Regions from separate parts of the Homo sapiens genome. Here region 1 is linked to region 2. The links come from fine-mapping of genetic effects on gene expression. A gene starts in region 2. The other region holds a variant in brackets. All regions are shown on one strand. Distances are from middle to middle. Region 1 has its middle 110 kb from the start of TEX13D. Region 2 holds the start of SH2D1A (SH2 domain containing 1A).

Region 1 (5,381 bases), 130 kb before region 2:
GCTAAATCCAAAAACTATAATATGGCCTACAAAACCCTACATCATTTGACATCCTGCCTGCTTCTTCAGTATCATCTGAATTATTTCTCTGGGTTCAGTCAGTTTCCCAGAGTGGAATCTTCCAATCTTCCGCTTGGCATGTGTAACCTGGCTGTCAGTATTTTGGGAACTGAGTCAAGGATGGGGACTGGAGGTCTCAATGTTCAGAAGGCAGACTCCAACTTAATCCCAGTTTTCAACATAGCTTCTCAGTGGGCCCTCAGCTGTGCTTGGTTTAAATGTTTTCTCCCCTGCTGGGATGGAGGGAGGGATTTGGGGGCTGTTTCTTATCATCATGTTCAATCTATCATCCTGTTTTCAACTCCATACCAAAACTCCCACTTTCAGAGATAACTGGTACCCTCAAAACCTGAGCTTTTTGAGGTTTGGAGTATAAACCGCATCCTTGGGTTTTGGCTTTTTCTAATCTGCTAAACCACTCATTTAGCCATTCTCTAGTTTCCATATTTGCACATGTACACGCATGCACGCGTGTGTGCTTCTTGCTTATTATAGCCTCTCCCCCTTTTTCCTTTGTACTCACTGCATTTGGCCTTTTAATCCCCTGTTCTTTTTTTGTGGGATCTCAGGAAGGAGCTCAGATAAGTGCATGTGTTCAATTTGCCCAATTTAATTGGAAGTGAAGTTGTTTTAAATAACAAACACCTGTTTCATTTTAAAGCCAATCCCATGAACAAAAACTGGATTTCCTGGAATCATGAAATATTATAACAAAAAATGTTCATCCAGTCCATTGTTTCTTGTCTTTTTGCTACCAAGTATCTCTTTTATTATATTATATCTACCCCTCACTCCAACCCCACAATTGAAAAGATTCAGACTTCCAAACCTTAGTTTGGGAAACTTTGCTCAAGTCAATGCCCTCGTTTTACAGATGAAAAGACTGAGGCCAAGAGATAGAAGTGATTTGTTGAAGTCTAACCACTAATAAGGGGCCAAGTTAGGATGGGCACCCAAGTCTCCTACTTCCTCTTCTGCTGCTTTTCTATCTAGGATGTGAGATTTCTGACTGCCCCCAAACTGATGGGAGGGTGAGGGAAAACTTTCCTTCTGACTGTGGTTTTTCTTAGCAACATCATTACTGGCATTGAAACATTACTTCTTCTGGTGGCTAAGAGGAAAATGCTCTCCGCCACCTTGAAGGCCACAGGTGGCCAGACATTCTGGGAATCACTGGAGCTTTCTCAGGGCCACAGGGGAACCGTTTGTTTGAAATGTAATAAAGGTTCCTTTACACCAAACGTGGAGAAAAAGCTGCACTGGGAACACAACAGAATCAGCGTGAGAGGTCTTTTCTAGCCACTTAACCAGCCAATCAGCAAGGGGGCGCCTGCTGGGAACTCTTTCCTCTCCTGGAAGTTACCAGGGATACACGGGCTTGGCCCTGAAGGGGCTTCTGATCAAATTGCAGAGACCAGACAGCTTATCGAACAGCTTATAACCTCTCTAAAGGCAGGACCTTTCTTATTCTTATTTCTTGTGGGCCTCAGTGCCCCAGGCCTCCTGCTGGACACATGTTAGTTACCTATAGCTTAATTAAAGCTTCTTTGGTGCATTATTTCCTCTCCCCAAAGTGGAAATAATGAGCGAGTGCTGAGCTGATGTGACCACGTAGCCCCATTCCCCAAGGTAAAGTGACTACATACATTTTGTCTTGGAAACTCACTGCCTTCTGCAGAGTCCTTTTTCACTGGTAAAGGTTAAGTTTTGTTATTCTCCTGGATCTTTTGAAAACAATGCCTATAAATGAGGAAGCTAGCAATAAAACCCCTACTGTTTGTATAGGCTTTGTAGCTTACTGTGATCTAATTTAATCTCCTATCTTGTCTTTTTCCTCAGTGCTTTGTACACAAATGTTATTGATTCCCTCCAGAGGCAGCCATGTGTGGTAGAATAAACAGCATGAGTCTGGAGTTTTAGCACCCACCTCTTCAACGATCTGAGTGCTGTTAGGCAAGCTGCTTCCCCTCCCTAAGCCTCAATTTACCCGCATACAGAATGAGGAAAGGGTTTGGACTCCACAGAATCTGAGGCCTCTCTAGTTTCTCATTGGAGTGCAAGTGCCATTGTGTGGTTTCTGCTGTGGGCGTGGTTGTTCCAAACCAAAGGGCAGGGACAGGATGCAGTCTGCTGATCAGGGACAGAGGAAGAGAGACACAGCAGCTTTGCACATTTGTGGGTCCTTA[T/C]TCCCTCTCCTTACATTTCCCAGACTGTTTAAGTTCATGATCTCAGGGCAGCGCCTGTCCGCCCCCTACCACACACATCATACTATTCAGAGTTTCTTTCCCAGGGTCTACTTTAAAGCCAGTAGATTTTCAGGGGTCTCAGATCTTCTTATTGCTTGCCCTCTTGACATCTGAGGCCTGAAAAGAATTTGGGTTGCCTGCCTAGGCAGGCTTCCGGAGGCCTCAGCCTTCTGTCTTCCGGGGCTGGGGGTAGGAGGGTGCCAGAGCACAGGCAGTCATTGTTTGGGTATTGACTCAAAGGAGAAGGAGCCACAATGCACAGGAAAAAGGATGAGCTCATGACAGCTAAATGAAAAGATTCTTATCTTGGAAACAGCGGTTTCTTATGCAGAACAAGGGGCGGCAATGTGATTGTGCCCAAGGAGTACATTCAACAACAGGGATTTCAAATGAAGAAGTTATTTTGCATACTTACGGGAGGAGCAATGGGCCAGATTGTTCATTAATTAAAGGGGGGGGGTGCTGAACCCCCTACACACACACACACACACACACACACACACACACACACACACTGCAGAACTTAAATAATTCATTCGCTTTCTCCTCTTTCTCCTCAGTCCCAGATGATCAGCTGAGAGACAAATGTTTTTTCAACTCTAGCCACCTCTGGAGAAAGGATGGGGGAGAGGATGGGGGAGGACGGGAGAAGGGATGTGGTGGGGAGGGGAGGGGTGTCACAGATAACTAGAATGGCAGTGATCTCTCAACCATTTCTATTTGGTGTTCAAATGTATTGTACGGAGCTGGTGATTTTTTGTTTCCTTTTTTTGCACCCAGGAGATTTACCTTTCTAGTTCTGTTTGATTTCACATGAAAGAAGTCTGAGCAAATCCCCACTGAAGACGAGTAGAGGAAAGGAGAGAAATGCAGAGGGTGCAGGTCAGGGAGGCCAGGAATATGTTCTTTGACCACAGTCCCTCTCTTTCCCCAACTCTGACACGTGGTCCCCTGAGGGGAAGGACTAGATCTGTGGCTGTCCTGGAAATTCCGGAATGTAGGTCACCCACTAAATGGGTAATGCCAGAAGTGGAGAGTAGAGTTGTATGTGGTTGCAGGTGGGAGGCATCAACACCGCCCACATATCTTTCCTATCAGCCAGACTGCTCTCCTTCTACCCCAGATCATCTTTTGATTTAGGAATAAGAATGGTTATCATCTATCAAGTACTTTCACATTCATTACCTCTTTTATTATCCCCTCTCACATGTGTTATACATGTGTGCCAGATACTTTCACATATATTAGCTTATTTGAGTTGCTCAGGGACCCTGGGAGATAGCTCGGTATTACTGCTCCTGTCTTAGAAATGAGGATACCGAGGCTCAGAGACACTAAGTAGGTTACCCAAGGTCACACGGCTCAGAAATAGCAAAGCTGGAATTTGAACCCACATCGGTCTTGTTATCAACATCTGTGCTCTAAACTGCTATGCAATGCTAACTCTCCTCCCTTTCCCTCATTCTTCCCTACATCCACTTTGCCCTACTGTTACCCAAAAGGCAAACTTCCCATGTAGTTGGCATTCTGGCAAGCAAAGCAAGGACGGAGGTCTTTCATGAATGTGAGACACTCCTCTCAACCATGCATACCATCATTATGGAAGGCAAATTAAGGAAGAAAAGCCTCATAGATCTCCTCTCTACCTCAGGCTCACAGATAGGATTAACTTCTTTTAAGTGAGGATTATTGAGGTATAATTTTCAAACAGTAAAATTCTCCTTTTAAAAGTGCAAATAAGTTTCAACAAACATATCCTATTATGTCACCACCAACACAATCAAGACAGGATATTTTTATTACCCCAATAAGTTCTCTTGTGCTTCTTTGTGGTCAGTCTGCTCTCTCCATACACAACCTTTGGCAGCCTCTGATCTATCTTCTATTCCAGCAGTTTTGCAGTTTCAGAATGTCATATTAATGGAATCATAGAATATATACTCTTTTAGGTCGACTTCTTTCATTTAGCATAACGCCTTTCTTCCTTCCTTCCTTTCTTCCTTCTTTCCTTCCTCTTTCTTTCTTTCTTTTCTCTTTCTTTCTTTCTTTCTTTCTTTCTTTCTTTCTTTTTCTTTCTTCTCTCTTTCTGTCTCCTTCTCTCTTTCTTTTTCTTTCTGTCTTTCTGTCTTTTCTTTCTTTCCCTTTTTCTCTCTTTCTCTCTCTCCTCTCTCTCCTTCACTCTTTCTCCCTTTCTCTCTGTCACTCCTTTTCTCTCTGTCACTTCTTTTCTCTCTTTCTCTCTCTCCTCTCTCTCCTTCACTCTTTCTCCCTTTCTCTCTGTCACTCCTTCTCTCTCTTTCTCTCTCTCTCCTTCTCTTTTTCTCTTTCTTTCTTCTTTTCTTCTCTTCTCTTTCTTTCCTTTTCTTTCTTCTTTTCTGCAGGGTCTCACTCTTGTCACCCAGGCTGGAGTGCAGTGGCAGAATCATAGCTCCCTGCAGCCTTCAACTCCTGGGCTCAAGCAATCCTCCCATCTCAGCCTCCTGAGTAGCTAGGACTACAGGCACATGGCACCATGCCCTGTTAATTAAACTTTTTTTTTTTTGGTGGAGGTAGAGTCTTGCCATGTTGCCCAGGCTGGTCTCAAACTTCTGGGCTCAAGCTATCCTCCTGCCTTAACCTCCAGTGCTTTTGAGATTCATCCATGTGTTAGTTCATTCCTTTGTATTGCCAAGTAATATTCCATTGTATGGATGTGTCACAATTTGTTTATCCATTCTCCAGCTGATGGACATTTGGGTTGTTCCCAGCTTTGAGTGATAATTAGTGAAGCTGCTATAGACATTTACTTACAGGCTTTTGTGTGAATGTGTATCTTCATTTCTTTTGGGTAAATGCCTAGACATTGGGTTACCGGGTCATATGGTAAGTGTATCTCTAGCTTTATAAAAAACTGCTAATGGGGTTCAGTACATGCTACTTCAAAATATGGCATCTTTGCATTTGAGAAAACAGCAGAAATGGGAAAGTCACTCCCATCTTCCCCCTGCCCTTTCCCTCTGAAGCAGGTCAGAAAACCTAGGAAGGAAATCCAAAGTTGTAGGCCCTCCAACTTTGTTCTTTTGAACAAAATCCTTC
Region 2 (5,381 bases):
TGATTTTCCCCCTTAAGTTATTGTAAAATGTCAAGAATGAAAATATTTCCTTTATTGAGGGAGATTGAGGAAACAGGTCTTTGTTCTTGTGCACAAATAAGTTCAATTCATTTCCCCTCTGTTTCTCTCTAAAACACATTTGGCTTTTGTTTAGAGAATAGAATGTTAAACCTAGACGTGACCTTAGGGGTCATCTGGTTCAATTCCATTTGACAGATGGAGAAAATGAGACTCAGAGAGAAGTGATTTAGTGGCAAAACATGGCATATATTTCAACTCTCCTACTTACTGGACTACTGCTCCTTCCAATTCATCTTGTCATTTCAAAGACGACCATAGGCATGTAGAACCAATATTGTGTGTGTGTGTGTGTGTGTGTGCGTGAGTGTAAAAGAGAATTTCAGTATTTTTTCTTTTATTGAGAGCATTAAGTTCATTCATTCATTCATTCACACAACAAATATATATAGCACCTACTACTTGCCAGACACAGGATACAGTGGTGAGCAAAGTACACAAAATCCCTCCATCATGGACCTTACATTCTAGTGGGGGACACAGACGATAAACCATTAATTAAATAATTCTGCTCCTAAGTGGTTTATACTTGTACTTGGGGTCCATTCTTCCTAACTCTTTCTCTGTTGGTGCCTCTACTATCTCCATTGCTCTCCTCTTTCATTTTCTCCCATTTCCTCTCGTGTGTATGGGGAGAGAAGGAAGAGAGTCATTTCAATTCCTCTTTTCTCTACGCTTCAAGCTCAGTGTGAAGTTTTGAATTTGCTAAAGTCAGGTTTAGTACTGGTGTAGGATTAGAGTGAAGATGTCAGTATTTTTCATCAACACTGCACTAGTGGGCTGGCTCGGCTGGCTCAGCTGTCAGCTTGCTTGTAAGATGACAATGAGGTACTGGATGTGAAAGTTGTACTATTACCTTATAATTTATCTGTTTTTTAGTGCAATTTTAGTTGTGCTGAACCCCGTCATACCTGGCTGCTTTGACAGGTGTGCTATTTTAGCAACATGGAACAAAACAGAGAAAGAAAAAAAGAGTGCATGGTACGCTTGTGCTGTCAGATCCAGGTTGCTCTGTTCCTAAGTTTATGGATGATTTGTTCAGAGTTGTTAAGAGACAAAAAAAGGTTAGGTTTTGTTTTCACTTATGTGACACTGAATGTTCTCACAGTTCACCTCACAGGTCAGCTGTTGCTCATATGGACTGATATAAAGGGATCCCTTTCCCTGTCTCCTTTCTATTTGAAATTCCACCATTTTGATTAATTCCTCTGGGCTAACCATTTGCCTGCTCAATATATGGAGAGCCCAAGGTGGACAACCTTTCAAATCCTTAATGTTGGAGTATGCATTCATATATCAGATTAATTTCTTCCTTGATCCAAAGCATGAAAAGGGGTAAGAGGTGGAGTTGGTCAAAAACATGTGAGGAAGGAAGATGATAAAATAATATTGGTCCCATTCCCCAGAGCCATCCCCAAATGTCACCTTGAATGCTTTAAAAAAAAATTCTTAATGCTGAAAATGACTAGTAGGAGACTTATGTTTATACTTTGCATACTAAGGCTGGACACTCTTCAATCAAGAAGAAAAGTTGCTACCAGCTACCACTGAAATCTTAGAGGATTGTTCTTAATCCTAGTAGATGAAGAGCAAATATCTGCCTTTGGTGCAAGTCAGCTCTGTACATCCAATCCATTGGTAAGACATGTGAGGAATTAAGTGTCGTTCTCGCTATTGAGTTCCCAGCCTTGCCATATTCTCAAAGAACTACACACTGAAGTTGCAGAAAGCATATAATAGACGACATAGCTTCAGTTATTTAAATTCAAATTTTAAAAGTACTTTACATAATCTAAAGGTACATGTACAAGACCATTCAGCTTCAGCAATAAATAAAGTCTTACTCTAGTGAAAATGCAGGAAGCTTTGCGGAAATATTACCTAGCACATTTTGAAATAGAAGCAATGTTTTATTTCAGAGAAGAAAATGAAGGTTGAAAGGTTTTAAAATATTAAAGACAGTTTAGCCTCAATCGAAGAAATAACATTTTCTAGAAACAACAGAGAATAAAAGTTACAACAAAATTATCAACAACTTGCAAATGATTCAAAACAGATTTTATGGACAAAATGCTGAAAGGTGGGCCCTGTACACCAAAGGGCACATACAAATCCACATAAAGGCAAAGCACCAGTTAAATGATTCACAGTCTCATCTAAAGCCCATCAAATAGATACATCTGGAACATCTTTGGATGTACATTGTGACTTTTGTATCTCAACTAGCACTTTGGGACCTTGGACAAGGTGTTAGGAAAGAAATCAATATTTGCTCAGGATCAAGACTTCTCAAGATGACTGCGTGAGGTAGAAGGAAGAGGGAGAAGAAGAACTTGCCCAGAGTTCACTGTTCATCTACTATGTCTGATTCTGTAGGAGTCTTCATGGCCATGTTCAGTAATGATTGCATACTGACAGTACTGATAAAACTATCAGTGTTTTGTTCTCAGAGCTCTTGGTCCTTTCATTTTGTCAGTGTGTTTTTGCCCTACGTAGTGGGTCCACATACCAACAGAGACATGTACAACTTGCCTCTATCATCAACTCCTTATGGGCTAGTTGAGCTAAGTTATTCCTGGTGGCCTCTGAGTAAACCGCAAGAACAGAAGCATTACTAAGCATCCCCGTCTGAGTGCAAGGGTGTGTGTTGGCAGTACAGCCCCAATCTTGCAAAATCCTTCTTCCAATGTTCCTCCCCTCTCTGTATGAACCCTGTGTTGGGGGGCAGAAGATGGAAGCCCTTGGCAAGCTCGATCGAACCAAGCTACTAAATTGCTGAGCTCGTTTTAACTGAAGTGTGAGAAGGAGGTTTAAGGCAAGTAGACAACATCCTGTTGTTGGGGTGCTTCTCTCTTTTTTGCACATCTGGCTGAACTGGGAGTCAGGTGGTTGACTTGTGCCTGGCTGCAGTAGCAGCGGCATCTCCCTTGCACAGTTCTCCTCCTCGGCCTGCCCAAGAGTCCACCAGGCCATGGACGCAGTGGCTGTGTATCATGGCAAAATCAGCAGGGAAACCGGCGAGAAGCTCCTGCTTGCCACTGGGCTGGATGGCAGCTATTTGCTGAGGGACAGCGAGAGCGTGCCAGGCGTGTACTGCCTATGTGTGCTGTGAGTATGATACGGTGGACATGGGCCTGCTGAGGGTGTGGGCGGTGGGCAACAGCAGCTGGGGCCAGGGTGGAGGCCGAGGCAGGCAGGGGCGCCGGCGTTAGCAGCTCGCCGACGCCTCCTCCGTGGCCCACCCTCAAGTCCAGCCCAGGGCCGTGGTGGAACACACTTTCGCCTCAATCCCTCGCTGGGGATTTCATTCCCTGGGCCTCCTGCTCTCCAGAAGGCCCTCACCAGAGCCTTTTGGGGCAGCTGCAGAGAATGCCATTTCGGGTGGTGAAATGTGGTCCACAGTTTACCTTCGCTCCGGGAAAGACCCAGGCTCCCCACTTCCATTTTGACCCCTATCGGGTGGCGCCCTGCGAGCCTTACTCTAGCTCTCTTTAAACGACTTTTGAAGTGTCATCCCAAAGGAAGAGCATGACATTCAGAGAGAGGAGGCACATTAAGAAACAGAGTCAATTACTTTAAGAATGCAATGCCAGTTAGGTCGAGATGCTGAGAGAGGAGGGGGATGTGTGTCAGTAAAATCACCTCTCTGGATCTGCTGATGTAGCATCCTTTAGAAAAGTAGTGGGGGGTGGGGAGGGGCAGGGGATTTCAGAAATAGGACCCTTCTTGATAAACGTTAGGACTCACAATAGTCTTAAAGGGAATGGAGGGAAAACACCCTTGTTATGATTCAGCTTTGCCATTTGCCTAGGCATGTCTCATTCTAAGGCTTCATTTTGAATCAAATTCATCTGCGTCTTTGCTCCAGGGCTCCGGAGTCAGGCAGATCTGAGACTTTGTCCTGTGCTCGTCAGATGTTAGGTTTGTGACTTGGGCAAATTAACCTCTCAGTTCCCCAGTTTTCTTATCCATTGAATAGGTATCATATTACTGCCTACCTCATAGGATTGTAAGATTAAGTGCCATAATGCAGTAAAAAAATTAGCACTGGGGCCTGACACCTAGTAAATGTTCAATAAATGTAAGCTATTGGTATTATTATTATACCAAAGATATATTATTATTTTATCTTCTCTTTTCAGTTGATTTCTTTTAGGAATCATGGGGGCATTTCTAAGGAAGGACCTAGCTCAGGCATTATTGTCAGCAGGATAAAAAAAAAAATCCATGAAAACAGCAGCCCTGCATTGTAGGTTCTAGACAGAAACCAAATGAGGTTAAATGCTTGGTAGTAAGTTCAGCATCTGATAATACCCCACAAGAGTTTGAAATACCTTATGGGTCAGTGAAGAAAGATTATCCTGATGCTGGTGCTAGAAGATTTTTCACTGTATATTGTTTTTTAAAAACGGTCAAGCCTTGTTTGTGGCAGCTCTCAGGTCATGCTAAATACATTTTTCACAAAGGCTTCAAGGGAAATACGTGGAAGCTATTGAATGTCTTGGGCTTGAATCTTTATGTTTTGCTTATATAATTATTGTTCCCGTGTGGAACCTAGGGAAGGGCAATGAAAACCAGCTAGGATTCTTAGGCTCTTTTCTCATTGAAAGAAGGTGGAGTGAGTGGGTGGGTGAAAGGCGCTGCTTTAGGGAAGCTGACAAAGGAGATAACATGCTCCTTAACCCAAAGGTGAAAAAGAATGTACAAAACAAGTCTGGGCAGGGGAGGGACAACAGGGTATAGTGAGAGGCAAGATATACCTAAGGCTTCAGCCTCACGGGGCTCCTGGCCGTTTCTCAAGCTCCTCAAAAATGCCCCCACTTAGGATTTCTGCGCTTATTGTTCCTTCTGCCCAAAATACCTTCAGTTCACATGTTTGTTCAACTGTCTCCTCCCTCAGAGAGGACTTGCTTGACCACCTATCTAGAACAAGTGCCCTCTCCCTGTCCCTGATACACTCACTCCATCTCTTTATTTTTCTTCAAAGAGCTTTAAACTATCTGATAATTTGCTTGTTTACCTACTTATTGCTGGGCTGTCCTGCAAAAATATAATCTCCATGAGGGCGGAGATACTGTCTCCATCACCAGAAACACAGGAACACATAATAGGCACTCAGCAGATATTTTTGAATTAACAAACTGTCAAGGCAAATTCTGTTCTTTACTGCAATAAACGGAATGGCCATTGAGAGGTTAGGGTATGGACTCTGGGAAAGTCACTCAAATTCTCTGGGACTCAGTTTCCATATTTATAAAACAGGAATAGTAATGTGTATCCTACCTTCTGCAAAAGATTGCCTT

What was found.
Region 1: its variant is fine-mapped to the expression of SH2D1A in whole blood (TOPMed, PIP above 0.99). The same link has a PIP of 0.9 or more in blood mononuclear cells.

The regions. Positions count from the first base shown.
Region 1 is chrX:124,215,530-124,220,910 of GRCh38, forward strand. No RefSeq gene overlaps it. Among named protein-coding and RNA genes, the nearest start is that of TEX13D, 110 kb to the right of the region's middle. RefSeq lists an enhancer at 1,448-3,208. The variant T/C (reference allele first, on the strand shown) is at 2,247.
Region 2 is chrX:124,343,594-124,348,974 of GRCh38, forward strand. SH2D1A (SH2 domain containing 1A) reads left to right here and starts at 2,970. Exons shown (of 4, transcript NM_002351.5): 1 at 2,970-3,186. The coding sequence starts at 3,050.